2 separate regions of the Homo sapiens genome follow, and region 1 is linked to region 2. The links come from fine-mapping of genetic effects on gene expression. A gene starts in region 2. The other region holds a variant in brackets. All regions are shown on one strand. Distances are between the middles of the regions.

Region 1 (15,607 bases), 38 kb before region 2:
GTGGCCTCCCGTGCTAGGGCTGGTGTGGGCAGGGCCGTCAGGGCAGGCCTGGACTTACTGGGTGAGTCAGGTGGGCACCTCACTCCATGGCAGGGGCAGGCTGGCCAGGTGCCAGGCCAGCCTCAGAGGCTACAAGAGACACCACCTGGGAGGACCTTGCCAGTGCCCGGCACAGCCCAGCAAGATCCTTTCCTGCGCCCACTCCCCTAACCCCAAACCCGCCTCAGCCCTGGCCATCCACCATCAGCAGCTGCGTGGCTCCCCGTAGGCTGCCATTTCTCCCCACCTCAGCTGACCCTGACCCTCCCCTGTGAGCCCCTCCCATCCTGCCCCTGCACACTCCAAATCCGCCCCCCTAATCCTCAAGGAACACCTGCTGGAGGCTCAAGCAGCCCTTGCCCTCTCAGGGCCGCAGTTTCCCCAAATGTCCCGGAAGCAGGAGGCAGAGGCTCCCTTGCCCTCTCAGGGCCTCAGTTTCCCCAAGTGTCCCGGAAGCAGGAGGTGGAGGCTCCTTTGCCCTCTCAGGGCCTCAGTTTCCCCAAATGTCCCGGAAGCAGGAGGTGGAGGCTCCCTGCAGGCTGCATTGGTGCCGCTGCCTTAGCTTCAGTTTCAGTCAAAGAGCTGGGTCCGGGGCGGCTGCCGCTTTCCCATCCATAAAATGGGTGACTCCTACTTGGGCCGCTCCCCAGCCAGCTTTCCAGCCCCTAATGACAGGGCTGAGGGCTTTGATGTCCCAGATGAAAGGCCGCCCCAGCTCCTGGGCTGGCCCCAAGACAGTGGATTCCACGTCCTGTAAAACAGGCACTGCCCTCTGAGAGCCAGGCCTGAACTGTGGGAAATGGGCCCGGCCTGGCCTGCCCAAAGGCCACCATCCCCAAGGCCCCAGCCACGCCAGCCCGGCAGGCAGGAGGACCGGGGTCCAGACAGGGAGGACGGGGGTCCAGGCAGGGAGGACCGGGGTCCAGGCAGCGAGGACCGGGGTCCAGGCAGGGAGGACCCAGGTCCAGGGAGGGAGGACCAGGCTCCCCAGCAAGAAGCAGGCTCTGGACCCCTCCAATGACAGAGGGATGGGGAGGGGGCAGGGTGTGCTCTATGAAAGAAAGGGACCCACCCAGACACGCCTCAGCACCCACCCATCCCCTGCAGGTGAGCAGGTACAGGGCAAGAAGGGAGCAAGAGCCGGCACCCCGCAGTGGTCTGGGCTCTAGGGCAGCTCCCCAGCCTCCCTCCTGGGACCAGCATCACCCCGGTCCCTGAGAATGAGGTACCCTGACCCACCCAACCCCACTCAGACCCCAGCACTGTCCTGGATCCCATGGACAGAGTGCCTGGCCAGTGCCTCTGTGCAGGTCAGGGGTCACAGCCAGCTGCACCAGGTTTCCAGGACACAGGCCTGGTGGGCTTCTCAGGCTCTCCTGAGAGCAGGGTCCTGAGAGGATCACCCCTCCACACCCCAAGCTCCATCACACCCCACCCGGACCCGACCCCCTCGCCAAGTTCTCCAAACCCAGCACAGAGCCGGCATGCGTGGCCCTCGGCTTCTCGGGAACAACCCTGCCCTCCACATTAGTCTGAGTTTCTGCTGGGACGCAGCGCTGGCCTCCAACAAAAGCAGGGCTGGGGCTGGAGGATCAGGGGCCCCAGCAGCCTCCCAGGCTGGCCTGCAACCCCAATCCCAGAGGCTGGAGTCCCAAGGGCCACCTGCGATGGACACTAGGGGCCTGGGTGCGGGTGACCCTGTGGCCTGACCTGGGGGGCCCTGTGGCCACACGAAGGACTGTGTCTGTGTGGGACCACAGTGCAGGGCCGGCGGGAGGCTCTCTGCAGACGGCTCAGAGCTGTCCTGGACCTGCTTCCACCGCAGCCGGAGCCTCTTTAAGGGGATGCTGTCATTCACGTATTCTTTTATTCCTTCTTCAGCCAGTGTCTCCTCAGCCCTGCTGGGCCTATCCCTGTGCCCAGGATCGGGGAAGGTGATGACTCAGACCCCGCCAGGCCGGGAGACAGGCAGAGACCGCACAAGGTGTGACGTGCCATGGCAGAGAGGCCTAGGAGCCTCCACCAAGGAGGGGCCCCACCATCCCCCGCCTGGAGCCAGGGAGGGGCACCTAGCCGGGGACAGGGGGAGTCCCCAAGGGAGGGAGGGGCTGCACAGCCAGCCTCTGGGCAGGGGATCACAGCACGGGGGATGGTGGGGCCTCATGGCCAGGACCTCGGGTTGAAGGTGGAGTGGAGCAGCTGGAAGCCAGTGCAAAGCCGCAGAAAGGGGCAGGTGCCCAGACACAACCTTCGCAGGCCAGGCAGGCGGGGGGTACTGGCATGGGGACAGAGTAACAGGCTTAAGGAAGCAAACTAGTTCCGCTGGGGACCTACCAAATGAGAAGCAGATAGGACTCCGAAGAGGCCAGGAGGCAACCAGAGCAACAGCTAAGGTGGCCCCAGAGGGCACATGTACAGGTCAGGTGAGGCCATGAGCTCACAGCAGTCAAAGGGCTGGGGATCCCCCAAAGGGTCTGGGGCCTCTGACCACGGGAAAGCCCAGCAAACTGGGGTCAAGACAGACCCAGGCCTGAGTCCTCCAGGGAAGAGCCTCCATCCAGGCTGCCCCGGGAGGGGGCTCTTGTGGTTCGGGGGTCCTGAGCCCATGAGCAAAGGTAGGCAGAGGGCAGAGGATGGCAAGAAGACTCTGGGAGGGAAATGCTGCCATCACTCCTGCCTCGACTTCCCCACACAGCATAACCCAGAGACAAGGGAGCCAGGGGCCGCTTACACAGGGCTGTTTCCCGCCAGCCCAGCCCCCAAGCCTGGCTCCCTGCCCCAGCCTCGGGACCCTAAGATCTCAGCAGAGTCAACAAGAAAGCAGATCAGAAAGGAAGCGTGGGCTTGAATCCCAGCTCTGTCGTGTTCCACCTTCTCTGAAGGGCCCTCATGGCACCGTGGGCCCCACAGGGGCTGCAAGGCAGGCCCTGGCACAGCACCCGAAGCCCTGGGTCCCCGTGGATGTGTCCTTCCCACGCTTACTGCCCGTCACCCCAGGGACCCTCAGAGGGCGGCACACCAGGGCGTGAGGAGTCTGCCGACGCCCAGTGAACTCGGCAGCCGTGGGAACCATCGATGCATCTTTAATTCACAAATAAAAGCTGTAGCAAGATGTCATCTACACATTTGTACAAAGGTTCAGACGTCCTATGCTATGCACGATCCTCAGAAAGTATGAGCCTGTCGTGCGGGGACGTCGCAAACGCTGGCAGGCTCACCCCTCGTCTGCATTTGGCAAGAAGCGCCTCCCAAGGCCCCCCCACCCTGCCCAGGGTGCCCCCCAGAGGGAGCAGGCCTCCCACAGCTGGAGAGAGCCCGGCCCCCAGAACACCTTCCCTAGAAAACCATAAAAACATAGATCATTTGTCTTCAAATTCCCACGGCAAATTCCGCATTTATGGGCAAAATGATATAAAAATATGAACCTAACAGAACCTTTACAAAACCCTACCCCCCATCTTTGTTGTTGGTCGTGGTGGTCTGTTTTGTTTTTTGCTTGTGGTTTTGGTAAAAATTCCTGCCGTGGAAGAGGCAACCTGTACCTGGGGCTCAGCCCTTGTTAGCTGCCCTCGGGACAGAGCGGGTTCTCGGGAAGGGAGGGGACTCGAGGTCAGCCATCCCTGCCCGGGAGACCCCAGGATGGATCTGCGTTGAGAACCCCACACAGATCCCCCACAACCCGGGCTCTGCCGAGAGGAAACCATTGTAAAAGAAAAGTCATCCTGAATCCTGAAAGACCCCTGGGGCGTGCAGGTAAGTCCCACTCCACTCCACAAAAACTGCTTGGCTGCAAAGAAGGCAAGGTGGACACAAACACAACCGGCGCCAGCCCCGGCCCGGACAGGCGCAGCGGGGCCGGGCTGAACACAACTTCTGCTGGTGTCTCAAGTCTGTAGCACCAAATGCAAAAGGGAGAAAAGTCCAAATCAAGGTCAAAGGCACTTGCGTTGCTGTCGGGTGGTGACGGTCTTCTGGTCACCCTGGCACCCTCGCTCTGTCCACCGCGTGGCCGGCCCTCCCTCCCCCACACTCCGTCTCCTCTCTGAGACTCCCGTCCTGCACAGAAACCCCTCCGCATCCTCCCCCCGCAGCCCCCACCACATCCTCGCTCCGTCCCACGTCCCGTCCTCCAGCCCGCTGCACGCCCCCTCCTCTTGTCCGGCGCCCAGCCTCAGACGTCCACCTCCTGCGGCCCCGGGATGGCAGCACTGGCTGCAACGCTGATGTCGAAGCAGGTGACCATCATGACGTGCGCCTTGCACAGGTTCACGCACTGCTCCAGGGCCGCCGTGGCTCGCTCCAGGGCCGCCAGGTACTCGGCCGACTCGGGCTCCAGCTCCGGGTCCACCTCAACTGGGGAGGGGAGGAGAGGGGAGGGGCACCTGCGTCAGGCCCGAGGCTGGGGGCAGCCACCTGGCCCCCCAGAGGCCCCAGGAAAGGCATCTTGGCCCGGCCGACCCTGCCTTCCAGCCTTCCCACCACGAGGTACAGGAGAGCAACAGGGCTCTGGGAGGGGAGGGCAGCTGTCAGGGCACACGGTGGGCCGGGCTGGGTCCGTGGGCGGGCGGGACTCACACTGCTCCAGCCAGCGGCCAGGCTCCAGCATCAGCCGGCCCTGGGTCTCGGCCAGCTCCTCACACAGGTGCTTGTGCTTGGCCTGCACCTCCCGCAGCCGCTGCTGCCTGCGCTCCGCCAGCCGCAGCCTTGTACTGACGCACGCCAGACCCTGGGAGGCAGGGCGGGCGGGGGCTCAGGCATGGGACCCTCTCCCCAGAGACCCCCAAGCAGCCCTGATGTGGCCCCCGCCTCCCTTCACCTGCCAGGCCTTGGCAGGCACACAGTGGGGCTCCAAGGGCGGGCAGGGGGCGGACCTGGGGCAGCCCACCCATGCCCGTCTGGGTCCTGGCTCGGCTCTAGGACCACCCTCCCCACGACAGGGGAGAATTCCAGCGGACAGCAGCAGTGGCCTCAGGACCCCCCAGCCACCCACCCACTGCCCAAGGGGAGTGTCGGAGCTGCAACAGGCTTGGGCTGGGCAGGGCCGCTCCTACCTTTGCGTCCTGGGAGGAACGTGGACAGAAAGTGAGGTCAGGGGCTGCCCAGCCACACCCCCAGAGGCCTGGCGAGCCCATCAAATGGCTCACTCTGCCATCCGCGGCAGGCTCCCCACCAGGGGTCATAGACCCCAGCCCACCAAAGGCCCTACCTGGGTGGGGGCCTCCCTCGGGGTGGGGCGGGGCCGCTGAAGGCGCTCCACGTCATCGATCTCGTACACCTTGATCTCGAACGGCTCCTTCAGGGAGCCAGCCAGGGGCGGGGGCAGGTCCACCCACTGCCCGGGGAGGCTGGGCTTACGGCCCAGGGCAGTGGTGTCGGGCAGTGGGGCGGGAATCAGGCGCCGCCGCTGCAGACCTGGAACGGAGAGCCGGGCACAGGGTGAACAGAGGCGGGGCCCAGCCCAAGCACAGCCCCTGCGGGGACGCTGCGGAGCCGGCCCGAGTCCTGACAGGGAGGCCTTCGGGATCCAGTCCAGGAATCCTCAGGCTGGCGCTCTGCCCAGGGCAGGGAGGAAGCCGACCCCAAGCCAGGCCCACAGCTCTCAAGGGCGCCCCCACCACCACCAGGGCCTCCCACTTTCCCTGCCATGACCTGAGCAGTTCTGTCCCTTGGGGCAGCCCTGGCGGGGGCCTTCCAGGCAGCTCGACACTCGCCAGGGAGGCACGAGGCCCGGGACCCAAACCCGAGTCCAGTGCCCCAGCCTGGCGACCTGTGCAGGGCTGCCCTTGTGCTCACCCAGACACAGACCAGGATCAGCCCCCCAGGGCAGGGTGGGGCCAGAGAAGGGCAAGTACAGGGGGTTTATAAACTGCAGAGGGCCGTGCACCTCCACACACAAAAAGCCCCAGGCGAGTCTGTAAACCGTCCACGGCTGTGTGGGTCTGGGACCTTGAAGGCTGTGCCCATCTGTCCAGCATCTCCTGGCCCTGTAAACTGTAGAGGGCTGTGCACATCTACACACAGAAAGCCCGTAAACTGTAGAGGGCTGTGCACCTCTGCACCCACCTGTGGCCCTCTTCTTGGGGGACTTGAGGCTGCGGGTGCGGGCGCCTGGGGAGGCAGCCCCACTCTCGCTCATGGAGTCAGGGGCGGAGGAGGCGCTGCCGGTGGCCTCGCTGTCGCGCCGCAGGCTCTCATAGCC[A/G]CTGCTGCCACCGCTGTGGTGGAAAAGGGCGGTGCGGCCCATGGCGGGCGGCAGCTCTCCACTCAGCACGCTGCTGTTGTCGCTGCCATGGCCGCTGCTGTAGCGCTGGGGCCGCCGTGGGGCGGTCACCTTGCTGTAGGGGGAGGGCAGGGCCGGGCCCGTGGGTGGCCGCTCCTCCCCCACGTTCACGCCGCTGTCATGGCCGCTGTCTGAGTCCGCCGAGCCCCACGAGGAGCCACCTCGGCCCGGGGCTCCACTGGCTGACAGCTCATGGACGCGGCTGTGAGCAGCCCGGAGCGCCTGCTTTGTGCCCATGACGGTACCCCGGCCAGCCTTCGCCCCGACACTGGGCCCGGCCCGTGGGGCTGCTCTGGGACCGGCCACAGGGCCGCCAGGGCTCCTGCCCGTCACAGAGGCCGTAGACAGCTTCACCGAAGGCCCCAGAGCCCGCGACCCACCAGCCACTAGGCCACGGCCCTTGCCTCCACCAACAGGGGGCTTGGGGGCCCCCACAGCCTTGGCTGCGCCGCTCCTACAGGCGGGAGCTGGACCGTGTGTGGGGCTGGAGGGTGGCACACCCAGCTTGGGTACAGCCCGGGGAGGCCGCCCAGGGGCTTCCCGGCCCTTGCTGCTGCTGTGCGCCAGGCCTTCGTACCGCTCCAGAGACGCGTGTCCGGCAAGACGGTGTGCTGCTTCTACCTTGCTGGCCCGGGCCTTCAGGCTGGACGTGGCCCTGGGGACAGAGTGGTCAGCCCGGCTGCTGGGTCTGGGCTCCTCCTCCCCTCGAAGGACAGCAGCAGCCCCGACCCGCGCCGGGTTCACAGCATGCGGAGGGGCCGAGGCCGGGCTGCTCCTCTGCTCCAGGCTGGACTTCCGCGTGGGTGGGGCCGGGGGGGCCGCCCCACTGGGCCTCGGGAGGAAGCCCGCCTTGGGAGCCAGACCCTTCTTGCTGGTGGGGGAGGCCTTCAGGCTCCCCGAGCAGGCCACCACCTCCGTGGGAGCATCTCCCCAGGACACAGCTGGCGTTGTCACACCCAGCGTGGTGGCACCCCTCCGCAGCGGTGGGATCCGAGCCACAGCCTCTGGCCTGCGGGCCGCCCTGGCTGCCACCTCACACCCGTCCACCACTCTCTGGGCACAGGCTAGCATCACCTGGGCCTCAGGCAGCCGGGGGGAGCCAAGTGTGGGGCTGGGGGCCCTGCCAGCAGAAGCTGCCTGGGTATCACACTCCCCTACCCGGAGCAGCCATGGGTCCTCAAACAGGCCTCCACGGCCAGGTGGGCTCTGGCCCAGGCGAGCACAGCCCACACGGGTGGTGGCAGAGGCAGTCCTCGGTTTCCGGGGGAGGCTGGAGTGGATGGTCTGGGCTGCGGATGCCCACCGCGAGGGCCCGGCCTGGGGCTCCCTGCCGGGTCGGGATGGGGCCACTGCAGCCACTTCCCCAGGGCACGGACCCCAGGTTGGCCCAGGACTGTCAGGTCTGTCTGGCCCCAGGAACCCAGAGCTTCCATCCCCCAGGGAACCATCCAGGGCAGGGGGGCCCCCAGGGTCAAGCCCTGCCAGCGAGTCGGGGCTGAAGCGGGGCTGCGGCGTGGGGTCACGGCTGTCGGCAGTGCAGACGCTGACCTCGCTGAGCCAGGAGCTGATGGAGGAGCCGTGACTGCTGCCGGCCCAGGCTGCCCCCTCCAGGGGCCCCCCCTCAGGGGCCTGAGAGGTGTAGGCGTCAAACTCATCATTGATGCTGCTGATGATGCTGACTGGCCGGGACCCCGAGGCCAGGGCCCGCAGGGAGCAGTCACTGTCGAAGCTAGCCAGGCTGGTGGGCCGCCCAGCTCCGGCAAGCGCCCCCAGGGACAGCTCCTCCACCACCGTGAACACCAGCTCGTCCTCGCCGTTGAGCTCCACTGGCCGCTGCAGGGTCACTGTGGTGGTGAGCAGGCCCCGCTCCGGACAGCGACTGCCAGCAGCCAGGCGGGGGCAGGTGGCCCCAGGAAGCATCGGGGACCCAGCCACCTGCCCACTCATGCCCACGGGAGGGGTCCGTGCCACTCCATCAGTGCCCCCTCCCCCAGGCTCTTCTGGGGCTCTGCAGGCTTCCAGCAACTGAGGAGGTGGGGGAGCCGGGCTGGGCAGTGGCCTCCTGCCTCCACTCACTGCAGCCTTTTCCGGGACCAGCAGCTCAGGCCAAGCGCTGCTGTCCTCTCTCTGGTCACCCCAGACAATGGCCTTGCAGGGCTCAGGGGTACCCTGGTGGGTGTCTGGACCAGAACTGCCTCGAGGGGTGCTGGCAGCCATCGGGGTGCCCACGGCCTTCCTGGGGGATGCAGCCTCTGGTGGCGAGGGCTTCCGGCCCCCTCGGGCGGGGCTGGCCTGAGCTCCGTCGGTGCCACCTGGACCTCCTGAGGGACCCTCGTTGCCGTCCATGCATTCCAGCCGCTCCTGCAGCTCCGCGAAGGTGCTGCAGCGGAAGTGGTCTGCGTCTCGGGGACCCTTGGAGGGCCGGTGGCGGCTCAGGGCAGGGATGATGGGCACGAAGTCAGGCGGACCTTCGTTGTCGGTGAGCTCCCGGTCTGACAGCGCCGCCCCACCGGGCCCCACGTAGATGACCGTGTCACAGGACTGCTCGCTGCTGGAGGAGTAATCGGGGTCACCGGGCAGGCAGGGAGGCGTGCGGTCGGGGTCCAGGGCCACAGTGCGTGGGTGGAAGGGCCGCAGGTGCGGGGGCCGACGGGCCCGGCCTTCCTCACAGGAGCTCTCCCCGCCAGAGGAGCTGGAGGCGTACTGGGGGAAGAAAAGTGGAGCTGCCGAGCCCAGTCTCCCCTACACGCCCCCGCTTCCCCGACCCTCCCCAGAGCACAGGGCCAATGCTGCGGTCACTGTGATGAAAACTACAGCAGGCACCACCAACCATGTCCCACCAAACGCTGGGAGCGGAACTGAGTCTCAGGGGAAGAACTTAAGTGACCATTCTTAGCAACTTTACAAGGAAAACGGTGTCACCCCGCGCTGGGAGGGAACGGGAAGCTCAAAAGACAAGCATGTGTGCCCAGGCCAGTGGCCAGGACTCACACCAAGGGCCGTGTAACCCCAGAGTGCCCCAAACTCCACCCTCCAGCCCCAGAGAGGGGTCCCTAGGAAGCCCCTGCAGAGGTGGTGCGGCTCTCCTGAGCACCCCAGGGCCTGTGCGGGGGCAGCAGGCTGGAGTGAGGCCACCACAAGCCACATACAGCAAGCCCCGATTCTGCCCACTGCAGCCAGGGACCTCAGGCTGGGCTCCCCACCCCCCAGGGAGGGCCACATGGGCATAGCCTCATGACATCAGAACACATAGGACATCTACCCAGGCTCCAGGCCACCTGCTGACCCCCACCCCAACCAGGCCAGCAGAGGCCTGCAGTGGACACAGGAGCCGAGACGGCCCCGAGATGGGGCGGGCAGGAGGTGGGGAGCACCTTGGCCTTCTTCCTGCGCAGGCGGTGGATGCGGGCGGCGAGCTGCACGGTGCTGAGTGTCTCTGCGTGCTGGGCTGGCGCATCCGACACGTGGGCGATCATGGTGGTGCGGCAGCCAGCGGTGGCCAGGGATTCACGCAGCAGCATGGTGAGCCTGTGGTCCCTGCGGGTCGAGGCGGTTCAGATGCCAAGGCCTTGGGAAGGGAGCTTCGGGGACAGGCTGGCCAAGGGCAGCCCTGGGATCAGTCTGGTTCCCACCCAGCTCCGGCACCAGCCCAGCGTGGGGCCCCAGGCAGCCCACGGGCAGCGAGGCCTGTCAGGTGGTGGAGGAGCAAAGCCCTGAGGAGCTGGGGGCCACAGCAGCACCGGGCACACCAGACACGGATTTACCAGGTCACCAAGGGGCCACCCTGGTCGGCACCTGCCCAGGCCCTACACTCACCGATACGGCACATGCTTGGCTCCGTTGACCAGGGCCAAGATGACGCTGCCCAGGGCCGACAGGGACAGACACAGGGGACCCCCAGCAGCCTCCCCGGCCCTGCCAGCCGCCGCCTCACAGCTGCCCAGGTCGATGAGGTGCAGGCGGCTGCGGCCTCCGGACACTGGAACCACAAGGCAAGCAAATGATGGTGTAGCCAGGGGCCCCCAGATCCTGCTCCACATCCCCACCCCAGGCCCAAGCTGGGGACAACCCCAGGGACATCCCCAGGAGCCACTGGATGACAGGCCCCTGTGCCTGGGTCTCTGCTGACACGCATCCCACAGGGGCCCGGGAGTGCGGGTGTGGCACCTACTTCCTCCCCGGCCGCACTTCTCCATGCGGTACTGGTAGACGTGCAGCGTGAACAACATGTGGGAGCTGCGTCGGGCGTCCTCGCCACAGCCCGCTCGGCTGGTGCTGCGGGCCGCCAGGGCCGCATCCAGGTAGAAAGCCGCCTTCTCGGCCGTGGGTGCCCGCAGCTCGCTTTGGTTCTGGAGCTGCAGGAAAGGCAGAGGCAGCGGCGTCTTCAGTGGCTCAGGGCCAAGTGCAGCCCCCCTCCCCCAAGGTGGGACAGTAGGCAGGCGCACCTGCGCCCCACACACGGGGTCCTCCCGCAGGTACACTCCCGGAGACTGGGTGTCCTGGAGGCTGCCAGGGGCCACCTCGGCCAGCAGGTCCCGCAGGCTCTGGTCGCGCCCGCACACCTCCACGGCTGAGACCCGGACGGAGAAGCGGGTGCCCGTCCTCTCCCTGCGCTCCTCGATGAGCCTGAAGAGCCAGGAGATGGCGCAGGGCACGATGCCCAGGCTCTGGGGTGAGCTGTCCTTCCCGATCATGGTGTACGACTTGCCTGGGGGCCACGCAGGCGTCAGGCCCCACCACACACCACGCAAGGAGCCTTTATGGCTACTGGCGTCCCCGGGGGCCAACCAGGGGCACCGAGATCTCAGGGGCCTCTTTGGATCCATCCTAAGCCCTCTGCCTTTCAGTTCGGCAGGGGTTCAGCTTCCTCTCCACAAGCCCCTCACCCCATATGCCCACCACGGCCCATGTGTAGGACCAGCCTCCTTTCCCATCAGAAGCTGCCAGCAACCACCGTGATGAGGATGGGAGGGGGTGGCCAGCAGGACCCATCTAGGGTGGGGCAAGGGTGCTTACCCAGGCTCATGTGGCCAAAGGAAAAAATGCAGCCATCAGCCCCACTGACCACCGACTGGAGCACGTCGGCCACGGTCCCCGAGCAGACTTCGGCCTAGGGGGGCAAGAGAATCAGGCAGGGCTGTGGCCCCTTCCTTCTGCCACGTCTGTGGGCCTGAGGCCGGTCTGTCCTGGCACATGCAGGCAGTCGACCCACAAGGAGATTGGGCTGCACACCTGGGACCAAGGACAGATCCCATGTGCACACGGAAAGCACAGAACACACATGAACAGGACCCAGGACACACGTAGGAGGGACTGGCCAGACACGTGCAGACACACACCCGCAAAGCCCAGAAGTCCAGCCGCCGGGCGCAGGGGCAGACCACCACGCGCAGAGAGACGCACACGCAGCCACACGGTGCACGGCTCAGCATGGGCAGGGAGCACCGGGCGCCCCCAGAGCCCAGAGCCCAACAGCTGCTCGGAAAGCTTCCCGGGAGGGCGGGCTCCGGAAAACCAGGCCTTTCCCTGTGGACTTGGCCCAGAGCCTCGGCAGGGGCGGATGGAGACACCCAAGGACGCTGGCCAGGACGATGAGGGAGGTAAGCAGGCAGGCGCCGCAGGCAGCGGGCCCCTCGCTCACGCTTCCTCTGCGCCCTGCACGGAGAAGCGGGCGCAGATCGGACCCATGTGCTGAGCCAGCAGCCCGGCTCCGGGTCTCCGGGAGGACGCCCAGTCCGCCTGCCCGTACCTGCTCGGAGTCCTGGGGGAAGACGGCATCGAAGGCAAACATCTTGGGAACTGCAGCAGTGGCGGCTCGCCGGGGGCCTGCGCTGCCTGGGGGACCGGCGGCGGGATCGTAGAGGATCACCTGCTTCTTCCGAGGGTCCACCTTCAGGAAGGACATGGCCTCGGCCGAGCGCTGGGCCCCCTGTGCGGGCCAGATCCGCAGCATAACCTTCACCTGGGGCAGAGGTGGGCGGCACCTGAGAAGCTGCCTCCGCCCAGCCGGCCACTAATTACAGGGCAGGAGGGGCCCAGCTCAGGTGGGGACAGCGGGCCAGGCCTCACACTGGCACCCCCACCGCAGGAATGTGGACACCGCGCCCCTGCTCCAGGCGAGAGCAGATCCCATATGAGGTCAGCAGAGCAGGGAGAAGGTGAGGGCCAGGGAGAGGCAAGGCCGGTGCACAGCCTGTCAGCACCGAATGTGCGGCACAGAGAATGAGGGGGCGGCGGGCTCCGGGCGCCTCCGTGAGAAGAGGACAGCCGCTCAGGTCCTGCAGAGCAGCTCAGTCCAGGAGAGGGCAGGAGGGAGGAGCATGGCCCCCTGGCCCAGCCCTCGCAGGCTGCTCCCCAGGCTGAGGGGGAGCACTTGCAAGATAAGGGAATGAACTGCCCCACAGAGGTGTGAGAGCCGCAGAGGGCTGGCGCTGTCAGGGGAGCCATCCAGGGGCATGGCTGCCTCCGACCCTGGCCAGCTGAGGGAACCGAACCCTGGCACCCTGTGGCCTGCCGGACTAGAGTCAGCAGAAAGCAGGGGGAAGCCCATTCGAATGCAAACGGGGACGGGCAAGATAAGAAGGATCCCATCCAGGGGAAGATACAAATTCTGACGCCTCGGCCTCACCGGCCCCACTGCAGGCTTGGGGAGACTGAGGCTGGGGGGCAGGCTGAGGGTGGGTTGGGCTTCCAGACTGACCTCCCGAGCCAGCAGGGAACCAGGCAGCCCTGGTGCTGGGCAGAAGCAATGGCGTCTCCAAAGCACACACACAGATCTCAAACTGGGCCACATACAGGCACCGGACTCGGGAAGACCCTGACACCAGCCCCAGTACCCTGAGAGGGGGCAGACGCCGGGGAGGGGCAGGACCCAGGATGCCGGAGCCCAGAGCAATCACTGCAAACACTCCGAAACCCATCCACAGCAGGGACACCCCACACAGGTGGGTCTGGTGCGTCGATGCCAGGAGGCGGCGGCTCTGACCCGGCAGAGGCTGCGCACACGAGGGCCACCCTGAACCAGGGCTCCAACGCAGAGCCAGAGACAGGCCCCATTTCCTGCTGGAGGACACCACAGTCCACTCTGCGCTGAAATCTCTGATTTCTCCACTACAGCGTAAATCAAATTACCCGAGACTCATTTCAGAGCCAATATTTTTCACGGATTTAATTGTAAGTGACAGATACATAACGCCGGCAAAATTGGTTTACCATGGGTAGTTCGCACCAGGCGGCACCTACTCCCCCTGGGCATGGGGCACATTGATATGCAAGCCGCTGGAGTCGGGAGTGCCCGCTCTCCGGGGAGCAGCATGAAGAAACACTTTTCTATTGTACTACTCAGAACCTGGGCTCCATTAGGCAAGAATCGATTCTTTTATTCCCCCGACGACGTGATCAAAACTATTTCATTTCCAGACGCCACCACAAAGCAGACGAAAACGTGCACTTCCCGGTAATTTTTGGCAATTTTTTTTCCAGTGTGAACTCCTCACCACTTCAGGAGCCAAATGGGCTCTGCAGATTTGAGAGACTTCCTAGCGGGAAGGAGTGGCGTGGAGAGGCTCACGGTTTGGCTCTCTACGTCTGCCGGCCACCCTTTCCACCAGCGGCATTAATCGCAGAGCGGGCTCACAACCAGGAGGAAGGGGGGTGTGGGCCTCCCCAGGGAGGGGATGGAGCAGCCCACAGTGGGGGCACCGCCCATCTAGCCTGCCCCACACTGCCCTGGTCCCAGCGCAGGCCATTGTCTGCCGAAAGAGAACCCTGTCATTACTGCAGGGAAATGACAGGGTCTTTGCAGGAAAAGGCACAGCAAGCCTCTCCCCTAAATGTTCAGATATTACAAAGCCCCACGGAATAGCTGCCTGGGAGAGAAAAAACACATTTTGCATTAAAAAAGGGCTTCCAGCTCTGAAGAGGTAGCCCAGGCAGGGAGGGGGAAGGGCGCTGCTCAGCACCCACCCAGACAGGGATGTCTTTTTTATACCACACTGTGATGAATTATCTTAAGTAGCACATTAATGTCAGAAATTGAACGTAATCTAACTTCTTTTCTGTGACAATATTAAACGCCTTTCAGGCGGCATTTCTGACTATGTGACATTAGTGCTAATAACACCCGGGGAGCTGGGGGGTGTGCAGGGTGGAGGGGCTGGAAGGCTGGTGACCCAGGGCTCCTTGTTGCTGGGGAAGCACTGAGCACTCCGGAGCAGGGTGGGGGTGTGACTGCCATGGAGAGAAGGGAGAAGCCCGGCCAAGGCTGCCCCCAGGAGGAAGTGGGGCAGAAGCTGTCCCCTAAGAAACGCGGGGCGCTGGGAAAAGTGTTGCGGGCTCCTGAAGGAGCTGCTGACTCCTCTGCCCCCCGCCCCAACTGGATGGCACAAACAGGCTGAGTGCCAGGCCCAGGCCAGAGCCAGGGCCCCGATCCCAGGCTGGGCGGGGAACCTGGATGCTGCCTGCCCACCACCGCCCACACCTGACCTCGGCGTCCTCCTGAGCTCTCGGCACAGCTCTGCAGCCCACGTGGCCAGGGCAGCGGCAGCCTGGCCCCAGCACCCACCTGCCCTGTCTCAAGGAGACTGTTGAGGGTGGGGAGGACCCAGGGTGCCCCAGCCAGCCAGGCCTGGGCCCAAAACACAGGCTGATGCCACTGGCCTCGCATCCCAGGGGACTGTGGAGAAACAGCCCGTGCCGGGCACACGCACAGAGATCAGGAGCCCCCTTGTTCCCCGCAGACCCCCAGCAGTGCTAGGCAAAGAGATTTCCAGGGAGGCAGTGACCCCCGGCCTAGTCCCCCAACTCTGCTTCACCCACCACCCCCGCCTCACCCCAGGCAGGGGCCTTGCCCCAACCCCAGCGGAGCAATGACAAGTCCCTGATCCAGGCCACACAGCTTCCCCTGCCCCCGGGCCTTGGATGCAGAATGTCGCCTCCGGAGGACAGAGATGCCAGATGCCCGCCAAGCCCTCCTTACCACAAACGGAAACCAGTGCCCAGAGGGACAAGCGATCCATTCAAACCCTGGCAACTGGTGGGGTGCTCGGGGTGGAGACCCAGAGTCAGGGAGATCGGGAGGCTCCTGGTGGTCTCACCACACACTCCCCTCTGGACACCCATGCAGCTCCAAGGTGCCAACTGCCTGATGCCCCCACCCGGACCCGCCATGGCCTATGAAGATGGTAAGAGCTGTCAGGTCTGCCCCACAGGCCGCCCCAGAGCCCCTATGCCCCACGGCGGCCCTCCCTAGGGACCCACCACTGCCCCAGACCAGTAGCCACCGTCAATTCA
Region 2 (15,607 bases):
TCCCACAACACCAAATGCAGCCAGGAAGTTGGGCAGGACCAGGACGAGCCTTCTCCCAATCACCCAGCAGGCAAGCTGGGCCCCTGGCACCATCCCAACACCCAGACACTCCCCTGCCAGGTACCCCAGGCCTCCCTGCACAGCCCTAGGGGCCACCCACCCCCAAAAACAACCACCCTGTTCACTGGCTACCAGGAGTCTGTGACCCCTTTATAGACTGAGGCTCAGAGAGACTGAGACACCTGCCTCAGGCCACACCACCAGGGTCGCAGAGCTGGGGTTCCAACTCAGACCTGGGTGACTCCAGGGCCCAGAGACGCACCCTTGCCACTGCCCTGCTGGCCCCATCTTGGGGAGCCTCTGGGCTGATGGGGTGGCCCCAGTCCCACCCTCAGGAGAAAAAGATGGAGAGCCAGGCGTGGAAGATAAAGCTTGGAGCCAGGTCGCCTGACACTTCTTCCTGGTGAAGGCAAATTTGCGGGGGTCGGGGAGAGGGGGCCCTAGGGACGAGAGCAGGAGGGGCCTTTCAGCCTTGCTCAGGGCAGCCCCCACAGGCTAGGTCAAGCGGCTGGAGGACGAGGGCTTTGTGGAGGCCACGTTGGCGGCAGGGGTGAGGGTTTTGAGGGCAGAGCCGGGCTACAGCCGTGAACCGAAGCTATGAGCTGGGGAGGGAAGATGGGGACAGGACATTTAGGAAGAGCTCCCTGAGGGCACCAGGCAAGGGCCAGCATGCGGCACCTCCGCCAGAAACAGAGGCCAAAGCTCAGGCAACACCCATCACATGGGGTCAGAGGCCAGCGCAGGAGGGACGCAAGCACGACCATCCCAGGTCCAATGCAGCGCGCTGAGCTGAGTGACCTGGCGCCGGGCCAGGCGGGACTACACATTGCCATCAGCCCCGGGCACCGGGCTGGGCCACCCACCCATCCCCAGCCCTACAGCTGAGGCCTGGGATGCTGCTGGGGTCGGGGACAGGTGGGCTGGGGAGTCTCCACGGAGCACAGTGCAGCCCTGCGGAGGGCCTCGGGCCACCCCAGCCCACGGGTCCTGCCTAGAAGACTCCATCCTGGAGAGGCAGCTATGGCCAGGGCACGCCCGTGAACGAAACGGAGACACTGTGACACTGGAAGGAAAAGTGACCCTGAGCGCCGGAAGAAGCAACAGTGACGACGCAGCCCAAGGACTGTTCACAGGCGGGAAACTGAGGCCCCGCAGGACAAGGACACACCGTGGTGGGGGTGGCAGCCTCCAGAGCCTGCCCTGAGAAAGTCTCACCAAGCACAGTGTTCACCCCAGCAGGAAGGGAGCAGCGTGGGTGCAGAGCTCAGAGGCTGACGAGGGCTGCCCATTCCTGGGCCAGGACTTCCAGAGGCCAGACCACCCAGCCTGGCTGCCACCAGGAACCAGGGAAAGCCCAGCTGACAGCCACTCCCCCCAACAGCACAAGCTCCGCTTCCATGGACCAGATGAACAGGCTGAAGCAGACACGACCAAGGCACGGTCAGTCCACTTTTACTCTTACTTATTTACTCATAGCCCACACTGTCTTGCACAAAGATTGTGCGGTGGCTCGCAGGAACTACAAAATATAAGCTAAAAACAAAACCATGCAACTACAGTCAGTCATAACTGGAACAAAAAGAATGACCCGTTCCCATTAGAGCAGAAGAAAAGTCCCACGCGGCCCAGAGCTGAGCAGCACATTTGCTGTGAGCTTCCTAGCAGGCAAAGGAAGAGAAGAACTAGACTTTCTTTGTTACTTAAGGGAAAAACCAGCTCTTCTGATTCCCAAATAAGAGATCCTTCCAGGGTACTTAAGGGAGCTTTGGGAAGGCCCCAGTCCCATTCCCTTAGCCCACTCCAAACCCTCACAAGCCCCTCCAGCAGGACTCTGAGCAGCTGAAGGTTTGGGGGTAGCCTGCAGTCCCCCTCCTTCCCTGTCCTCTACCTGGCAGCAGAGAGGCAGTGAGGCCAGCGGCCACAATCCCATCCCCACCCAGCCCACATGTGACCACGGCCAGACTCCCCCAGAGCACGTCCCTGCCCCGACATAAAGCTTGTACCCCGGAAGCCGCTAGGGCTCCATCTCTGCTTCTGGCTGGTGTTCAGAGGACAATGGTTCACATCCCTCAAGCTCAAGTCCTCCCCCAAATGCCCATCCTCAACCCCTGGGACCCCAAAGAAGCAAGAGAGACAAGACGAGCACAAGGACGTGCCCTCCACCCATCACATGCTGAACCACAGGGAATCCCGGAGGCAGCACCGCCTGTCCAGGGAAGAGAAAGCCCAGGTCCCACAGAGGCTGCACAGCGAGGCTGGGCCCACCCAGGCTTCCTCCCTCCCGGCCCTTCCCCAGGCTCCCTCCCCAACAGTAACTGGGAGCTCCGAGCTCCACGGCCTCCCGAGCAGAGCCCTTCCTGGTAGAGTTAGCCAGTGCCCCGCCTGCCAGCCAGGGAGCCGTGCCCCCTCACACCTCCCCAGGCTGCCACCAAAGCCTGTGACACCTGGGCTCAGCTGGGAATGCTGCTGATGCCAGGCACCCCACCCTGCGGATCCCCGAGGCGGGTGCCACTGCCAGGCACAAAGGTGGCCCTGGCAGCAGTGGAAGCCGGGCCAGGCTCCAAGCAGCGAGGGAAGGTGGCAGCCCCAAGTCTGGGGGCCCAGGGGCTCTGACCACAAGTGGCGAGCATCCGTCATGGGACCACTCGGGCGCAGCTCCTACCCTCCCAGGACCATTGCCTATTTGGGGGCAACAGACCTGGGACCCCCAAATCACAGGCCTGGGGGCTGTGGAGACAGAGATGCCCCCATCCATCCAGGGGGCTAAGAGGGCTTCCTCGGACAAGTGACAGAGGAGGAACGAAAAGCTGGCAGGAGGAACGAAAAGCTGGCAGGAGTCACCTCCAGTCAAACCAGAGAGGCAACAGGAGAAGCAAACAGAAGCCCATGAGCAGCGTCCAAGGAGAAACAGGACTCGCCAAGCCACACAGAGCGGTAGGAGGGCTCCCAGCCTCAGACCATGACAACTGATTCCCTGTACACAGGGGCCACCCGGAGCTTCGCCGGGAGGAGAGTCCAGAGCCACAGCCTCGATGGGCAGCTTCCCTCACTGTTCAGCTGCGTGGCACCAGCAGGCGGCACCAACAGTGGTTCTGGAGCTCTTGGGGGCATAAGGATGAGGCCCCTGCCTGGATAAGCAAGAGATGCACGGGAGCTAAATGAGAATTGATCATTTTCCCCATCGGGGGCGATAATCAATTCAGCACCGGTACTGACGCTTCAAATGTCACGGGGTCTCAGGAGGAGTCAACACCTCACATGACGTGTCTGTCAGCAGCTGGAATGGATCCCCAAGCAGGGACCCTCTCCTTGAAGCAGGGAACCATCCTTTGTGGGGGAGGGGGATGGTCATCCTCCATGGGAACTGTCATTTTGAGGGGCGGATAGCCGGAATCCAGCCCCAGCAGTCCCGGGGGTGACCACCAGCAAGTGGGGTGTGGGAGGAAAAGCCTGGTCATTCAGTCATTCAACAAACACCTCCAGGTGACCCGGACCCCATGCCTGACCTGGCAGAGCTCCTGCTTGTGGGGGAAACCAGGACTGGGGTCAGGGAGAGGGAAGAGGTCTGCCACAACAGTTTGCGGTGGTGGGTGAGCATGGGGAAGCGAGGGGGGCCTTAGATGTGGAGAAAGAGGGAGGCCCCAGCTTTGCCTGCTGAATGGGAGGCACCAGGCTGCAACCTCCCACAGGGACATCTCAGAGTTGGGGGCACCTGAGAAGGGGCCCCTGAGGCCAGAGCAGGGACACTGAGGGGCCTCCAGCCCAGGGAGGCCAGGGGGTCTTGGGATGAGGACAGCATCTATGGCAGGGCAGACAGAGCAGCCCATTAGAGAAAGGTCCCTGGAGGCCACAGGAGGCCAGGCCACAGGGGGCCGCTCCAGGCCATGGGGGTCCTGAAGTAGTCAGCCCGGAGACAAGGCCTGAGGACCCTGGTGAGAGCAGAGGGCACAGTGTGGGGACACAGTGAGGAGCAGGAGCCACGGCCAGAGTCCCATCATGGGGCTTCCCCTCCACACCCAGGGCCAAGCACCCTTCTCAGATCAGGAAAGACAATCCCCTGGGGCTCCAACAGGGGCAGGAAGACAATGTCCCCCTCCCCTACGGCCCCAGACGGGGCACCAGAGCTCAGAAAGGTGGGGAGGGCACAGTCTTATCCATGCCACAGGGATGAGGTCCCCAGATAGGGGACCATGGTCACCCTCACTGCCCAGACAAGGGAACTGAGACAGGCTCAGGCAGACAAGAGCACACAGCAAGGGAGAGGTAGGCCGGGAACCTGGGCTCCAACAGCCCCAGGGACTCGGAGTCCCTAACTCAGCAAACAGCAGCAGCAGCTGCCAAGGTGAGAGTGCATCCCTTCCGGGCACTGCTCTACGTACCTATGCAATGGGCACAAAGACGGTCCCATGTCGCAGAGCAGGAAACAGTGGCCAAGAACTCTCGGGAACCTGCTCAGGGGAGCTGCCTCCTGGCAGGAGGGTGGGCAAGGGCCCAGCAGGGGATGAGCATAGGCAGGACCATGCAGGCATCGGGTGTTGCTAAAGAGCAACACATTCAAGGAGACCCTGGCAGGCTGGGCCCGACCCTCTACGCCTCCCTCTACAACGGAGACAGGCAGGGAGACCCCGGCAGGCTGGGCCCCGACCCTCTACGCCTCCCTCTACAACGGAGACAGGCAGGGAGACCCTGGCAGGCTGGGCCCCGACCCTCTACGCCTCCCTCTACAACGGAGACAGGCAGGGAGACCCTGGCAGGCTGGGCCCCGACCCTCTACGCCTCCCTCTACAACGGAGACAGGCAGGAAGCCCGGAGGCGAGGGCCTCTAATAGCCAGGCCGGGTCCCAGCAAGTCTCTCCACTTCTCTGGGCTTCTGAAGATCCAAGCATGAGACAGATGGATGATTGTGAAGTTCCCTGTAAACAGCTATCCTCAAGGAAGCTCATCTCTCCCCTAAAAAATACGAAACGGGCCCCTGGGGAAATCCTAGAACACCAACCCTAAATACCCCTTGCCACGTTGGCCTTACAGAGCAGAGGCCAGGGCCCACTGGACAGTGCACCAGACTCCGGGGAGCACACTGGGGTCTCCCTGGCCACCCCAGAGATTTCCCTCCCAACCCAAACACAGAAGCAGCCATGTCCACACATCTGGGCCCAGCGGGCCAGGCCAGGGCTGCAGGCTGCAATTTTGCTGGGACTCTGGGGACAGCCCAGGCCCGCACAGGGGACAGGACAATGACACCCGTAAGGCCCCAGGATGGCAGGTGCAGCCCCCCATGCCCTGTGGAGAGACAGTGGAGGATGGGGTCTTCTCTCCCGGGGGCACAGCACCCTGCAGGTGGGACAGCACTTCACAACAGGCCCCAGGTGACAGAGGAGACCACAAAGCAGAAGAAGGGGGCCCAGAGCAGAACAAAGCCCTGGCTGAGACCAGCCCGGGACCCCGGTGTGCTGAGTGCCAGCGCCAGCTAGGGAAGGGGGAGCCCCCAGCTGGCACTCAAGAGGAGTTTCCAGTGTCAAAGGCCAAGCTCAGGGGAGGCTGGAGATGGGTGGTCTGGGGCTCCCCTGAAGACCTGTCTGCCAGAAGAGACCAAGACACCCCCCTAGATGAGGAACCTAGAATCCACCAGGGACTAGTATCACCTGCAGCCCTCTCCACTAGGACCCCTGGCCTGCCCGTGACCAGGAGCCCCCTCCCCTCCACGAGTCCATGCCAGGACCATGGCCCCAGGGCCAGGCAGCATCAGCAGTCCAAGCCCACTCCAAGAATGAGGAGACCAGCTCAATCTTAATGCCCCTCCTGTCTCTGGCGTGTTTCCCCTAATGGGGCAGCAAGATGGGCCTTTAGCTCTGGCTGGCCCTCTCCAGGGGGCCCTCAAGGGTCTCCTGCTACCTTTTAAACTAGATACAGGCCACTGGGGCACAGAGTATGGCCAAGGCTGCAGCCTGTCCAGAGCAGAGGACAGGGCGGGTCCAGCCCCACCCCAGGACAGGCCCACAGGCGCCTGGCCTGAGCCAGAGAGAGGCTACAGCAATCCTATCCCTCGCCGAGACTCCAGAGAGCCCGGAGACGGTGCCCAGGACAGAAACCAGACTGGTACCCTGCCCCACCCTGCCCTGCCCCAGACAGGGCAGTCAGGGTCTCAGCTCACTCCAACCCCCACAGCCCTTAGAGAACTATATTTAGATTCAATGGGGATTATGCGGACTTCCCAGGAACTCTTTCATAAAGGCTGAAGGCCCGGCAGCGGGCTTCCTCTGGAGACCCCCACCCGCCCCCAGCCTTTGCAAACTTCCAGCATGCATTGTTCCTGGAACAATGGTCCCTGCTCCCTCCAAAGCCGGCAGGCCCACTGGCTGGAAATCCAGGAGAACCCCTCCCCTGCAAGCACCTGCCCCTGGGGCTGGAGCCTGGGGAACCCAGAGGGCCCCGACTCAATTCCCCATGGGCGGCCACTGCCTCAGTCTATCCCAGGAGGTATGGGACAACAGTTCTTATCCTTGAGGCTGGGAGAGGAGTAGGCAGGGACCCCCCAGCTGCTGTGGCCCACCCTTTCACCTGCCAGGCCCCCCGGCCCCAGGTATGTAATTTCCAGACACCTGGCTGGGGGCCCAGGTGCCCCAAGGGCCACAATGCACCAAATAACCTCTCCCTGCTGGTAGGGCTGGAGCTGTCCCGCCCTGGGTGGAGTCCCTGCCATCCGCTCTCTCCCCTCCTCCTCCCACACAAACCTGCGTTCCAGCTGTGGGACATCTGGGCTGGGGGAGGAACGCCAGCCCAGGCCCCTCCCATCCGAGGCAGCAGGGCCCCTCGGGCTGAGCTCCCTAGCTCACACATGGTGTTACAGACCGGGAAACTGAGGCCCGCAGAAGGGAAGTCCTGGCTGATAACTCTTTGTGGAAACAGCAGCAGGGAAGGAGTGGAACCCTGCTTCCCTCCAAGCCCCAAGTTCTACCCAAGTTCGGCGTGGCCCTGCTCGGAGGGGTCGGCCTAAGGAAGTGTCACTTACCCGGAGGGTGGTCCCGGGCCCGCTGACCAGCTTCCACGCCTGTCGCTTGAGCTCCACCAGCTTCGTGTGGCAGTGGCGGCACCAGCCGCCTCCGCCGGCCGAGTGGCCCTGCTCTGGGCCGGCCCCGGCGCCTTCGGGAGCAGGGCGGCTGCCGCATGGGTCCTGGTCGGGCCCGGCGGGTAGCCTCTTTCGGGGGGACACCTCCAGCAGCGGCGGCGGCTCGCGGGCCGGGCCGCCCTCGGCCACCTGCAGGGTGTGGGGGCGGAAGCGGACAGTGAGCCTGGGACGTCCGTCGGATCCAGACCCCTGCGCGCCCTGCCCCAGCGTGACGCTCTTGCCAAAGTTAGGAGCCCTGGGCACGACCCTGGCGCTCACCCACTCCCTCCATCCCCGGAGGTCCCGCCTGCGGGTCCGCTACCCTCAGCAGGAGGCCCGGCCCCCAGGGATCCAGCGCACACCGCGAGTATCTTCGCCGTCCCGGGCCCCCGCCGCCCGCCTCCCTCTCCAGGCCGGGCCGCGCGTACCGCGGGCTGCGCAGCGCACAGAGGGACGCCGCGGCCGACCATGGCCGGGGCGCGGGAAGAGCCCGGCAGGCGCTCCCGGCCACGCTGGCTCTCCGGGGGCGCCGCGGCTACGTGATCCGGCCCCGAGGCGCCCCCATGGCCCGGCCCAGCCGCTCGGAAGTTCGCAGAGCCTGCGAGTGTCGCGAGGAGCGCGGTGGCTCCGGTGGGCGCGCTCGGGAGGCGAGGGCGGGGCCGGGGAAGGGCGGGGCTCGGGCTCCCGGGGCGGGCGGCGAGGGGCGGGAGCCCAGAGAGTGCCCCGCCCTTGCCCAGTGCTGGGCGGCGCGTGGGGGGGGTAGGGTCCCCGCTTCCCCACGCGGCCCCGCGCACTCCAAGGACCCCAACCTGTTAGGTGAGTCCCTGCCCCGGGGAGGGGCGCTGGGGGCGGCGGCGAGGATCTAGTTGCGCGCGCGCATGCGCCTCCCGCCCCTCTCCCGGGACACCAGGGCTGCGCGTCTCCCAGGAGGCGCCGACGCCCCTCCCTCTACAGGCGGGAAAACTGAGGCTGCGGAGGGGACGCTCTTGCCCAAGGCCCACGGCGAGGTGGGCCGAGGAAGGGGCGGGACCCCGGCCCCGAGACTCCCAGGCGCCTTTCCAGCAAGCCCAGCGTACTCTGCGTGTCGCGGGCCACTTTAGGTCTAACTGTCGCGCGTGGGTTAGTGTCGCCGCGGTGTGCGCCTCGAGCCGGGCAGCGACCGCGCCGGCGTATCTGTGCCTCGGCGCGTCTGCGAACGGCACGTGTCTTTACAGCCGCGCGTGTGCCCGCAAGTGGGTGTGCGCGCCGTGCCGCCCGGGAAGCGGGAGGTCCTGCGGGCGTGCGCCGGACCTGTTGTCAGCAGGCCTGGCAGATGGGAACTCAGCTCCGGAATTAATTGCTTGTTTGTCTCCGGCTGGGAGGCCGCCCCCCCGCCCTTCCCTGGCGACCAGTTGCTCTGTGCCTAGCCGGGCCCCAAATGTCGCCGGCATCCGCGGCCGCAGGCAGCTCCGGGCCAGGCTCCGGGTCAGCCCCAAAGCCCGGGTCAAGCCAGGCGGGCGCGGCGGGCGGGCTCCCCGTGACGCGAGTGCCCCCTGCCGGCCGCTGCGCACACGGCTCCGAGACTGGGGAGACAGCGCCGCGCGTCCCAGGCCTGAGGCGCACTCGGAAACTCCGAAGGTCGTGACCCGGCGGAGACCAGGACACGCGGCTGCCGGCACATACGGTGAGGCCTTCGCAGAGACTCAGTACGTCAAAGTGACCCTTTCCGTTTTGCCCACCCCCTTTTACTTGGATAAGCCTCCCCGCCCACGCACGCACTCCCCAGAAAGTGGGGTGGGTGATCCCCTCCCGGCTTTCCGGGTCGTTGATGACCTTAGGGGTTCGAAAACGCAAGGGGGTATGGAATAAAGTGGCAGGGGCTCTCCACTCTTTCTGAGATCCGTAAGCCTGCAGTCGCTTTCCACCCAGCCTGGGGGGCCGGAAGCGCTTCCCCTACCCGTCTCTTCGCAGCCTGGAGAATGAAAACGGGCGTCAGCCCACATCTGGATCTGGGTACTGAGGACAACACCCAAACCCCACCCCGCACTGCCGGCAGACAGCACCGCCTCCCGCCGCTCCACTGCTCCGGGACACACACTCTCTATATCCCGTCCCCCCACCCACACACGCAACACAGAAGCACGCAGCGGTCGGGAGCACCGGTCCTGCGCCCCTGGCCAGCCACACCCGCAACTTCAGCGCTTCTACCGCCGCGGCGCTTCGGGAAGCACAAGCTCACATCCCATATCCGCAGAACACGGGGTGCACAAGGCTGGAGTCACCTCGGGGGCTCACGATCAGTCAGGGGCCCCGACCCCCTACTTCGCCCATCCTAGCAAGGCGCAAGGTGAGCCCGAGAATCCCTGCGCTGCGCTCTCCGCCCTAGCCACAGCCTCCGGGTGGGTCCGGTTGGGACACAGCCTTGAAGGCAGAGGGAGACTTGGACAACGCTAATGGGGGAAAGTGCGGCAGCGAGTCCCAGCCCGGGCTGCGGGACGCGGCTCCGGACCTGCCGTCTCCTTCCCGGCGCAGCACCCCCGGCCGCGCGAGCCGCGCGGCAAAGTAACGGGACGGCGCCTACGCCGCCCGCCCCCCTCCCGACAGCCCTCACCTTGCCTCGTCGCCGCAGGAGGTGGCTGGTGAAGCCCAGGATGATCTCCGAGTCCAGGCAGAGCGCCCCCATCTCCAGCAGGCTGGGAGCCTTGCGGGGCGCGCCGCGGGGCGGCTCGGGCGGCTGGGGCAGCGCCATGGAAGAGGGAAGCGCGGGGAGCGGCCCCTAGTGCCTCCCGCCACCGCCGCCCCGCCCGCGCGTTCACTGGCCGCGCGCCCGCCGCCGCCGCGCCCCGCACCGCGCAGGGCCGCCCGTCAAGCCCCCGGTCCTCCGCGCCCCGCGCCCCCGAGCCCTGCGCTCGCTCCGCGCCGCGCGCCCCCGCGCTCCGGCCCCGCCCGCCTGCGCCGACAGCGCCCCTTCCGCCCCGGCGGCGAGCCAGACACCAGCCACGCGGACTGGAGGTGTGGGGCGACGGCCCCGCGCGCCACTGGGCGGAGGTTGGAAGCCAGAATCGGGTCGCGGTCCGCGCCCACCTGCCTCGCTAGCCCCCAGACGTCGGTGTCTACTGCCGGGTATCCGGCAGGGAGAGGGCAGCGCGGCTGCTGTAAAACCCTTCCGACTGGGGCATAATCGCAGCCCCTTCCCCCTCCAATCTGTCCTGAGGACACGGCGCGTTGGGGTCCTGGCCCATGGAAACGCTCAGAGCCCAGTGACCTGTGCACTCCACCCCGCCCACGCTCCAGAGCCCCCGTTCAACCTTGGCCTATGGACCTCCAAGGCCCACCCCAACCGGACCACGGAGCGTGCGCAGCGGGACCCGCAGTCTGCGCCTCCACTCCAGGATCCCGATTGTGCCGCCACCCGTGGCCTTCCCTGCCCCGACCCCGACTCCCTGAGGGCTGGAAGATTCGGGCTGGCTGCCGGGCACGACGACTTTACTTTCAGGGTCCGAAGCTAGGGGCGGGGGTGGGCGCTCTGCCTGGGTGCAAACTCAAGCCCGGGTCCCGCGCTCCTCCTGTGGGCTGCCCCAGCCTCGCGCGCAAGTGGGTGAGATGCCTGGCTTGAGGGAGGAAGGGAGAGGATCAAGCAGGCAGAGAGGTTCGCCTAAATGCGCTAGGCCCACGCGGAAGGTCTTTGGGAGTTAAGGAAGTGTCAGGGACCCTGCCCAGGGGATATTAGGCGCCTTGAGCAGGACCTGGAAGGTGGACAGGCGAGGGAAGGAGAACGTTTTCAGCGGCGCCAGCGCGCACCTATGGCCTGGCTGGGGTGCTAAGGCTGGGCTAGACTTTCTGTGCTCTCTGCCCCCTGCACTCCTCTACTCTCCCCTGGGAAGGACCATGGCCACGCCCCACAACCCCACTGCTCCGGCGGCGCCGCAAGGCCGTCCTGCTCCCCCGGTCCTTCCCCTGACTCCCCCCAGTGGAGGCTGAAGGACGTTGTCTCAACCTGACTCCAACCCAGAGCCCAGCACTGCCATTTGTCTCCAACAGAATCACCATAAACGCTGGATTTGCTGACCACATGGCCGATCGTGACCACCTGCTCTGTACTCACCCAGGCTTCTGGTCAGGAGAGAGGCGGGGAAGAGCTGCCCCCTCCCTGCGTCCACCATCACTCCTGGCCTGGGATCAGGGCAAGTTATAAAGGGGGCCAGAGTCCCCCCTTTCTCTCTGTCCCTCTCCAGGAGGACACTCTGGGGACCACCCACCCTCCTCCCTCCCCCACAGGAAGGGGACTGGGGAAGACTGTCCTCTTCCCCCATCCTGTCTCATCCAAGACCCTGAGCCTGGGGCGGGGAGGGGGGGGCTCCCTTCAGCGGACCAAGGGCTTCTGGGAGGCCACCCGCCATGTCAGTGGATTGATTAAAGTCATTGTGGGGATTTTTTTTAACATTTAATTTACCAGGCACGCGGCGGCTGGTCAGAGCTGTCCCCAGGGAAATCTAGACCAAGGGAGCAAAACAGAAAAAAACCTCCTACCATTCAGCAGGGCCCCTCTGATGGGATTAATTGCCGGAACTCGGCTTCCATTCAGACCACACGCAGCAATGTTTCAGGGAGGGAGGAGGACATGGGGCTTGAGTGCTCAGATTCCTTCCCTGGGTGCTTGGAGCCCAGGGCCCTCCATACCGCCATCTCTCCCCAGCCTGCTGGTGCTGGTCAAGAGCCCCGCCCCCCACCTCTCCGCACCTTCGTGTCTTCATGTGTGACGAGGTGGACGGTACCCGGAGGCAGACCAGTCCCTCCAGAGCCCACCCCACCCCCATCCACGTCCCTTCAGTGTGCAGGGCAAGAGCTGGGAGGCACCCCAGACACGCTCCCACGGAAACTGAACACTTGCCAGAGGTGTCTTTAGTAGTGGAAACCGGCTGGGTAGGAATGGCCAATCGTCTCTTCATCCTTGGCGACAGTGGATGGACGGCAGGTGGACCCGGGACAGGGACGGGCACGCAGTGTGCGGCACAGCCCCGTTGGCCTTTGCAGAGAAGGTTTATGCTTATGAAGGCGGGGACCTTTCCTGGGACAGACACAAGCAACAGGTAACGATTGTTGCCTCTGGAGAGAGAGTAGGAGTGGGGTTCGGGAGAGGTTTCACTTCCATTTTACACCCCTCTGCACGGTTTTGACTTTTGTGGGGTTTTTAACCATCCTGTTTAGCATTTAATAAAGAGATAAGGAAGGGTTACAGGGCCTAAACTGTCCACAATAAAATTATACAAGGCCCATGGCCCTAGGATCACACCTGGCATCAGACAGACCCTCATCCTCTCCAAGAGTTGAGGGGGATGGAAAAAACCCTTCTCCTCAAGGAGGCCTCGGGACACTCCCCACACGTTCCCAGGATTGACCAGCTCCCTGGGCTCCCTGCTCACCTATCCCTCCTGGAGGCCAGGACCATGTCTGGGGTGCAGGAGAGAGGGTGCCTCAGGAAGGCAGCCACAAGGGAGGCCGACCCCGGCTCAGGGCAGGGCCTCCTAGTAAAGCGAGGCCCCTCGTCCTCAGCACCAAGGGCAGGCTTCAGGTGGTCACTGCACCAGTTCTTCAGAGGGTGTCTGAGTGCTTGGGGGAGGGTGGCCGGCCATGGGGTTTAGCTGACACCCACCTGTTCTCCGGACCAGGCTCTGTCTTACGCACTTGGTAACATCCACTCATTTAATCTGCCCAACAGTGCTAGGCACGGGTATTGTATGATCGCCGTTTTACAGATGAGGAAATGAGGCCCAGAGTGGGGAGGTCAGTCTCCAGGTTTCGCCCCAGGAGTCTGTGCTCCTAAGCCCTGTGTTTACAGCCTCCTTCCCTCTTCCCCCAGGGCCCAGCTGCAGAGCAAGGGACCCCAGCCCTGGCCTCGGAGCCAGGATGGAGCACGAACAAGGGTGGTCAGCTCTGAACTGAGGTCTGGGAGCCCAGCCAGGATCCCACGGATCCTGGCTAAGGGTTTGCTGAGTAGGGAGAGACTGGGGATGCTCGCTGGTCAACAGCTGATGGCTCCACAGACCTCACCCTGTGCCAGAGGAGCCCCAGGTCCAGCACAGAGGGACAGCCTAGGACGCGGCTTCAGCACCTTGGCCAGCACCAGGAGGGGGCTTCTGCAGGCGAGGGGAAGGGGGATGGGGGAGTGTCCTGGGGTGTCAAGCTCTCCATCACTCATTTGCTCATTCACTCTTTCTTTTTTTTTTTTTTTTTTTGGAGTCTTGCTCTGTCTCCCAGGCTGGAGTGCAGTGGCACAATCTCAGCTCACTGCAACCTCCGCCTCCTGGGTTCACGCCGTTCTCCTGCCTCAGCCTCCTGAGTAGCTGGGATTACAGGCGCCCACCACCATGCCCGGCTAATTTTTTGTATTTTTAGTAGACATGGAGTTTCACCGTGTCAGCCAGGATGGTCTCAATCTCCTGACCTCGTGATCCGCCCGCCTTGGCCTCCCAAAGTGCTGGGATTACAGGCGTGAGCCACCACGCCCGGCCTCGCTCATTCACTCTTTCAATTCAGTCATCCTGGAGTCGTCCTTGACTCCTGCTTGCTCACGGCCCCCGCAGCCCATCCATCAGGATCTCCTGTCCCTACCACCCTAATGGAATGTCAGCCCCTGGAGGGGGTTCTGCAATGCCATGCCTGCTTCACCACAGCCGCCAGGTGAGCCTTTAAGAAGGCGGTGGGCTCCTTCCACTTCTCGGCCCTGGCTGACTGACCCGTCTCCTCCCGCTCTGCACCCCCTACGCATTCTGCTCCAGCCCCAAGGGCCTCCTCGCTGTTCCCAAACGTGCAGTCACCCCCATTTGAGCGTTTGCTCCACTGTTCCCACTGCCAGGGGGCTCTTCCCCCAGACATCCACATGCCTGACTTTCTCCAGGTCTTTTCTTTTTTGAAATAGGGTCTTGCTCTTTCGCCCAGGCTGGAGTGCAGTGGCGCAATCACAGCTCACTGCAGCCTCGACCTCCCAGACTCAACCGATCCTCCCACCTCAGCCTCCTGAGTAGCTGGGACCACAGGCACGCACCTCCACTCTGAGATAACTTATTGATTTTTTTGTAGAGACCAGGTTTCACTATGTTGCCCAGGCTGGTCTCGAACTCCTGGGCTCAAGCAATCCTCCTGCCTCAGCTTCCCAAAGTGCTGGGGTTATAGGCGTGAGCCACCAGGCCTTTTCTAAGCAAAGTGTTCCCTGCCCACCTTACCTAAAATGTCAGGCCCTTCCTGCATCCTGCAGCTTTGCCCATGTTTCCTCTCCCTCCTTAGCACTTACCAGGAGCTGACTTAGATGTTTCTTACTTGTCTAGTTTATTGTCCTTCATCCCCTTTAGAATATCAGCTCCATGAGGGCAGGAAATGTTTGGTTGAGCACCTGGCACAGCACTGAAGCTCATTCACATTTGTGGAAGAAATAAAGGAATGCATGAACCCCAGGCTTGTTCTCTGTGCCACCAGGTCCTGCTGCATTCCCCCTGCAGAGGGGCTCCTGTCCTTCCTATCCCAGCCTTTCCCGGCCCTGCCATGCCCCCACCCTATATTCTGCTCTGGCCACCTCACTGGCCCCACCCTGGCTCCTCTCACCCCCCACCACACTGCACCTCGAGGCTGCAGTGCCAGACCCCACCCTCAGGATGCCTTGCCCGGGTTCCCACAGCCCAGCCCTAAGTCAGCCAGGTTGACCTCATGGGACCTGCAAGCCAGTGTGCGGCGCCCAGCTGCCCCAGCCTGAGGACTCTTCCTGGGCCCAGGTGGAAGCATTCCTGACCTACCTGCACCTTCTCTGTTTCCTGGGAGGACGTGTGTAGCACCAAGTGGCCTCCAAACCTTCCAGCCAGTGCCCTCCCCACCAGGGTGGAGAGCCCTGGCCCCAAGCCCAGCCTGCAAGGCCCGCAGCCTGGATCTTTTCCCGCCGTGCTTGGCTCCCCTCTCCCCTCCAACACGGGATCTGGCTGCCTGAACCTCCCTCCATGCCCACAATACCCAAGCCCTGGCAGGACTCCAGAGTCTCTACCTCCCTCAGCCACATCTCGAATGGGGACACTGTCACTTGTGGCCAGCAGATGGCACACTTTGGCCACAGTTTGTGGCCAGAGGACGATTAAAGCACTCTCTTGGTCCAGTTCCCCTTTTATGCAGATAGGAAAACTGAGGCCCAGAGACAGTGAAGGGTGCACCAGGGCATGGAGCCCAGGGCTCACCTTCAAGGCCCATGAGGCCAGCCCTGTGGCCTCACCAGTGCCCCCACTCCACCTAACAGGCCTTGGCGCATCTAACCCCATACCCCTGACTTCCTTCTCCCCTCCTGTTCCTGCCTCTTCTCCCTCTACTCCTTGTAGGCTGGGCTCAGCCTCCAGCTTGAGGATAGGCAGTGACCGGGGAAGAAGAACACCTGGGTCAGGAGTCTTACCGAGTCCCCAGGCACTTTGGCTGAAGGTGCAATCTGCA

Direction of the effects. Positions count from the first base shown, and alleles are read on the strand shown. Sizes are in standard deviations (SD) of each study's normalised expression.
For the expression in testis of the gene that starts at base 7,771 in region 2, allele A in region 1 goes with a lower level than allele G (small effect, 0.15 SD a copy in GTEx).

What was found. PIP is the estimated chance that this variant, and not a neighbour inherited with it, causes the effect.
Region 1: its variant is the best candidate, but not a certain one, in a credible set for the expression of KIF26A in testis (GTEx, PIP 0.86).

The regions. Positions count from the first base shown.
Region 1 is chr14:104,168,394-104,184,000 of GRCh38, reverse strand. KIF26A (kinesin family member 26A) reads right to left here. Exons shown (of 15, transcript NM_015656.2): 6 at 12,066-12,278; 7 at 11,333-11,426; 8 at 10,762-11,024; 9 at 10,488-10,671; 10 at 10,133-10,295; 11 at 9,691-9,853; 12 at 6,103-9,019; 13 at 5,246-5,451; 14 at 4,615-4,765; 15 at 3,107-4,392. The coding sequence ends at 4,211. Among named protein-coding and RNA genes, the nearest start is that of KIF26A-DT, 38 kb to the right of the region's middle. RefSeq lists enhancers at 4,271-4,805, 11,584-12,297, 14,439-15,151. The variant A/G (reference allele first, on the strand shown) is at 6,239.
Region 2 is chr14:104,130,751-104,146,357 of GRCh38, reverse strand. KIF26A (kinesin family member 26A) reads right to left here and starts at 7,771. Exons shown (of 15, transcript NM_015656.2): 1 at 7,594-7,771; 2 at 7,070-7,315. The coding sequence starts at 7,635. It overlaps KIF26A-DT (KIF26A divergent transcript), which reads left to right and starts at 7,729. Exons shown (of 3, transcript NR_158217.1): 1 at 7,729-8,828; 2 at 9,116-9,491; 3 at 11,186-11,575. RefSeq lists a silencer at 8,603-8,772 and enhancers at 8,469-9,180, 9,181-9,892, 10,179-10,752, 11,361-11,860.